2 separate regions of the Homo sapiens genome follow, and region 2 is linked to region 1. Evidence: fine-mapped expression QTL. A gene starts in region 1. The other region holds a variant in brackets. All regions are shown on one strand. Distances are between the middles of the regions.

Region 1 (2,911 bases):
CCTCAGGTGATCCGCCAGCCTTAGCCTCCCAAAGTGCTGGGATTACAGGCGTGAGCCACCGCGCCCGGCTTTTTTTTTTTTTTTTTTTTTTTCACACTGGAGTCAAGTGGTTATTCTTTGCTTCCTCACATGTGAAATGTTCACAAACACAAAAACACATCTTTTAAAAAGAGCCATACATTGCTATGTGAAAAGAAAGTGACAATTAAAATAATGCCTCTGTTTGAAATATTGCCTGAGGGACAAAGAGTTCATAAAGTTGCTGGGAATTGATGAGAGACAGTTAGCCTGGGGAAGGCTCTGAAAACCAAGAGATTTGCTGCCAGCCCTAGGAGGAGTTAGGATGAGGGGATAGGGTGGTGGATTTGAGACCCTGCTGCCCACATCTTTGGAAGACTCGGAGGGAAACCGGTCACCTTTGGGAAGAAAGAAGGGACTGGGGAACCCACAGATCACAGCTTCTCTTCCAAAGCACAAAGCCCACACACACGAGTCTGGATTCTGCCTGGTGACCCTCCGTTGTCACCGTGCAGCGTCCTCACCGGGTTCACAGGAACTGCGAGCCAGGCTGGAGGCGAGATTGCAGTTAGATATTAACCAGGTGCCCTCAGCCCCGCTGCCTCACGGGGCCGCCTCCCTGAGAGTCAGGTCACAGCAGACGCTGACCGCCGGCTTCCTCATCGTGCCCGGGGATAAGATCTCTTGAGAGTTGCTCACGGGTCGCCTCAGTTCTTTCTCGGATCCTGAATTGCAGCGGAAAGGCTGGCGCCAACCAGGCTGAAGACCCCACAAGGGAACCCACTCAGCAGAATGCGGTTTCTTCACCTCCAGTCCCAGGAGTCACCTCTCACTTCTCCACCAACCAGCGACCCCACACTCCAGCCGTCCCTGTCCACACCTCTAAACACCCCATCCCCAAACCTCTCAGGGAGGCGGATCTGGGGTGTCCTCCCCTCTCCCCCATTAAACTGTTTCTGCTGCAGCCTTCGGCGTCTCGGTGCAGTGACTCGGGCCGTGAACCTGTGCCGGTTACAACTGCACAATCTGGGGAGACGCGGAGCTGCGGGCGCGGAGCTGCCCAGAGAGGGCGCCGGGGCCGGGGCCGCAGCGGCCGAGCAGGGACGGGACAGGACGCCCGGGGTCCCGGCTGCCGCCCCAGCCCCATCTTGCGGCCCAGGGGACCAAGGGCAGAGCTGCGCCAGGGGCACTGGGATTTGCAGACCCCGGAGTCGCCCAGGGCGAGGCCCGGGTCCCCTCACGGTCGGTTCCGGCCGGTTCCAACCTGCCCCTTCTTTGCCTCGGGACGCCGGGCCCCGCACACTCACCATTTCCCAGCTTCCAGGTGTCCGGGTGTCCTCCTTAAAAGCCAGTGTGGGTCCCAGCGCGACAGACGCTGATACAGACCTTCCAGGGCGTCTCTCTCTCAGCGCCAGAGCCAGGACTCAGAGCGCAGGGGCGTGGAGAAGACTCCGCGGGCTCTTTGAACGTCGCACCCTCCTCCCTGCAGCGTGCCTGATTGACAGTTCTCACAATCCCCGCCCCCTCATCCCTGATTGGATAGTGCTCCAGGTCCCGCCCCTTGGTGGCTGATTGACAGAAGAAGCGATCTCACAGTGCTGAGTGGAGCCGGATGAACAGGTTCCAGGCACGACCCTTGGCAAGGCGGGCTTCCTCCCAACGGAGTGACCTGACCCCTCCCGAAGTGACGTTTGCATTTTAGAATTTCCTGATTGTATTCAGTGGGTTCTTCCTGCTTTTTCCTCCTGGACAGGGACTCACAAGTGTGTGCAGGGAATTCCAGGCTCCCTGTCCAGTGGAGCCATTCCCGGACCTCGGAGCAGGAGGGGAGCCCGGGGCACACAGGCCACCCTGCAGCAGGAGGGAGGGCCTGATGTCCTCCAGGGATCAGGAATTTGGGATGAGGCTGTTGGCGACGTTGCCAAGCCTTTCCCTCACCTTATCTCTCAATCTACTCATTTTCAGCCCAGAAGATAAAAACAGGACAACAAAATAAAATAGTTGAGTATGTGGAAAAACTGGAATTATATGGCAGCAATATTTCATAAAGAATCAAAAGAGAAGAAAAGCAAAAACTTGAACAAGCTCAGAGAAGCAGCCTACTGCACTCACAGTTCACAAGCAGACCCCCTTTCAGGAGGTCAAACATATCCCCAAGCTGGGAAGCCAGGCAATGATTCCTAAAATGGAGCTCCGGGGTGGATCAGAAGCTGGTGATAAGGGAGGGACAATTAAGAATTTTACTCTGAGGTCTCAAAATACCTGTCCCCTCTGCACAGCGTGGAAATGCTCCCTCCTTATGCCATTAAATGTTAATGAATTAAACGCTCCAATCAAAAGCCAAGACATCACACTTTGAATTTGAAAACATTAGCCTTTCTCCATATGTTTATGAAGTAAAAATACTAGACTTAAAAGCGTTATGGCCGGGCGCGGTGGCTCACGCCTGTAATCCCAGCACTTTGGGAGGCTGAGGCGGGTGGATCACCTGAGGTCGGGAGTTTGAGACCAGCCTGACAAACATGATGAAACCCCGTTTCTACTAAAAACGCAAAATTAGCCGGGTGTGGTGGCACGCTCCTGTAATCCCGGCTCCTCAGGAAGCTGAGGCAGGAGTATCGCTTGAACCCGGCAGGCAGAGGTTGCAGTGAGCCGACATCACACCACTGCACTCCAGCCTGGGCAACAGAGCGAGGAAAAAAAAAAACTCCATCTCAAAAAAAAAAAAAAAAAAGCGTTATGAACTAGAAGCTGGTAGCCATGGCTAAATAGAAAGGAGCTGAACATGAGATGTCAATAGATGAAATGAAATCTTCAATCAACTTCTAGAAACTATAGCATTTTCTGCCAGGACAAATGGGCACGTTTAGAAAATGAATGAAAAAAATGACGT
Region 2 (2,911 bases), 410 kb after region 1:
CAAGTCATTGCACTTGTATTTCTAACACTGTACAGCAATGTGTAGGCTTTCTGCCCTGTCTGAACATGAACAGACCACACATGCTCTACAAGATGGCCCAGCTATACCTGTTATCAAGAAAGATAATATTGATATAGGGCTTCTTAGTACTTTTTAAACATTTTTTGAGATAGGGTCTCACTCTGTCATCCAGGCTGGAGTGCGGTGGTGAGATCTCAGCTCACTGCAACCTCCATCTCCCGATCTGAAGCCGTCCTGCCACTTCAGCCTCCTGATTACCTGAGGCTACAAGCATACCATCGTGCCTGGCTAATTTTTGTATATTTGCTAGAGATGGGGTTTTGTCACATTTCCCTGGCTGGTCTCAAACTCCTAGACTCAAGCAATCTGCCCACCTCAGCCTCTTAAAGCATTAGGATTACAGGCATACACCTGGGCGCCCGGCCAACACTATTTTCAGGTAAACTATTTTACAAGTACTAACTGTCTTTGTCAATTTTATTGCTTCTGAGTCAGGGTCTTGCCCTTTAACCCAGGCTAGAGTGTAATGGTGCTATCATGGCCGAGTGTAGCCTCAAACTCTTCAGCTCAAGCAATCTCTGACCTGAACCTCCCAAAGGGCTGGATTATAGGCTTAAGCCAGGATGTTCAGCCTATGTCACACTTAAATATATGTTTTTAGAGATTTTTTTTTTTTTTGAGACGGAGTCTCGCTCAGTCGCCCAGGATGGAGTGCAGTGGCATGATCTCGGCTCACTGCAATCTCTGCCTCCCGGGTTCATGCCATTCTCCTGCCTCAGCCTCCCAAGTAGCTGGGACTACAGGTGCCCGCCATCACGCCCGGCTAATTTTTTTGGATTTTTAGTAGAGACAGGGTTTCACCATGTTAGCCAGGATGGTTTCGATCTCCTGACCTCGTGATCCGCCTGCCTCAGCCTCCCAAAGTGCTGGGATTACAGGCGTGAGCCACCACAGCCGGCCCTAGAGAAAATTTTGTAAGAATAAATACAGTGGAACTTGGCTTATTTCTTGTTTGCTTCTTTTTAACATTTTCTTCCATTCTATGATTGTCTAGAGAGACATCACTTTCTCTTGTGAATGCGAATTACCTTAGGTTTCTCCTGGGATTTTTGTACTCATCTTCAATTTTCTGATCTTTCCATTTTTTTCCTAAAATACAGAACCAGAAAAATAGTCCTGAATTAGCAAAATTATGAAAAAAGTACTAGATTCTAAGTTCATGGTACACTGCAGCCTTGCAGCATTTATTCACATTCCTATTCCCTGTCCTCACTATTCCCTGTCCACACTCCAAATCACTCAACACTACTGACAAGCTAGAAACACTTGTTCTCTAATTCACTGAGGAAAGTAATATTGTTACCCTTACCTACAGAAGCCAGGTTCCTGAAGGTTTCCTGCATCACATCTCTGTAGAGATTCTTCTGGGAAGGATCCAGCAAAGCCCACTCCTCCTGGGTGAAGTTCACATCTACATCCTCAAAGACCACTGAATCCTGAAACATCCCACATGTGTAAAGAAACATGGGTGAGACTGACAGCACTGGGTTCCTATACTCTATTCCTACAAAGTTTCCATGGTGCTATGGACTCCAAACATTTATTCCATGATCTGGTCATCAGACTTTTTACTCTGTCAACACTCACTCTTCCATAAAGAAATTCTTTTTTTTTAATTATTATTATTTTTTGAGACAGAATCTCATTCTGTCACCCAAGTGGGAGTGCAGTGGCATGATCT[T/G]GGCTCACTGCAACCTCCGCCTCCCAGGTTCAAATGATTCTCATGCTTCAGCCTCCCAAGTAGCTGAGATTATAGGCGCCTGCCACCACGCACAACTAATTTTTGTATTTTTAGTAGAGATGGGGTTTTACCATGTTGGCCAGACTGGTCTCCAACTCCTGACCACAAGTGATCCACCAGCCTTGGCCTCCCAAAGTGCTGGGATTACAGGCATGAGCCACCAAGCCTGGCTGAGGCCCTACCAATCTGACTGATAAGAGTCATAACTAACTAAAACAAAAAATCAAGAGCAGAAACCTTTCTTGGAAACTGTGCTTGGGTAGAAAAGCCTGAATTATAACTGATGAATTGCTGGAGGTTGAATGGCAACAAGATTGGAGAGGCAAAAACTCCAGGGTGTCCAGTCTCAACAAAAAGGCAAATATTTATCAAATGTAAAAACTTTTGTGTGAAATGGTGTAAGAGAACACCATCAAGAGAGAAAATGAACCCCATGTGCTCTGTCCAAAGGATGGTAAATGGCTCAGCCCCTATGGAATAGTATGACGGTGCCTGAAAAAAATAATATAACTACCATTTTTTTTTTTTTTTTGAGATAGAGTCTCACTCTGTCACACAGGCTGGAGTGCAGTGGCACAATCTTGGCTCACTGCAACCTCAGCCTCCCAGGTTCAAGCAATTTTCTGCCTCAGCCTCCCAAGTAGCTGGGATTACAGGCGCCCGCCACCATGCCTGGCTAATTTTTGTATTTTTTTTAGTAGAGACAGGGTTTCACCGTCTTGGCCAGGCTGGTTTTGAACTCCTGACCTTGTGATCCACCTGTCTCGGCCTCCCAAAGTGTTGGGATTACAGGCATGAGCCACTGCGCCTGGCCAAAATTAACATATCTTTCAGCAATCTACTTTTGTGTCTACTTATTTTCAATTAAAAAAAAATTGAAATCCAGATCTTGAAGACACATTTGAAAACCACTGTTAACAATAGCCAACTTTGGGAGGCCAAGGCAGGTGGATCACGAGGTCAGGAGATCAAGACCATTCTGGCCAACATAGTGAAACCCCGTCTCTTCTAAAAATACAAAAATTAGCTGGTGTGGTGGCGGTGGCGTATGCCTGTAATCCCAGCTACTCAGGAGGCTGAGGCAGGAGA

Evidence for each region. PIP is the estimated chance that this variant, and not a neighbour inherited with it, causes the effect.
Region 2: its variant is fine-mapped to the expression of ZNF823 in whole blood (INTERVAL, PIP 0.98).

Annotation. Positions count from the first base shown.
Region 1 is chr19:11,737,492-11,740,402 of GRCh38, forward strand. It overlaps ZNF823 (zinc finger protein 823), which reads right to left and starts at 1,455. Exons shown (of 4, transcript NM_001080493.4): 1 at 1,326-1,455. The coding sequence starts at 1,328. RefSeq lists enhancers at 829-958, 1,349-1,428 and silencers at 1,029-1,178, 1,439-1,633.
Region 2 is chr19:12,146,286-12,149,196 of GRCh38, forward strand. It overlaps ZNF625 (zinc finger protein 625), which reads right to left. Exons shown (of 4, transcript NM_145233.4): 2 at 1,391-1,517; 3 at 1,110-1,170. It overlaps ZNF625-ZNF20 (ZNF625-ZNF20 readthrough (NMD candidate)), which reads right to left. Exons shown (of 8, transcript NR_037802.1): 2 at 1,391-1,517; 3 at 1,110-1,170. Among named protein-coding and RNA genes, the nearest start is that of ZNF20, 7.4 kb to the left of the region's middle. The variant T/G (reference allele first, on the strand shown) is at 1,763.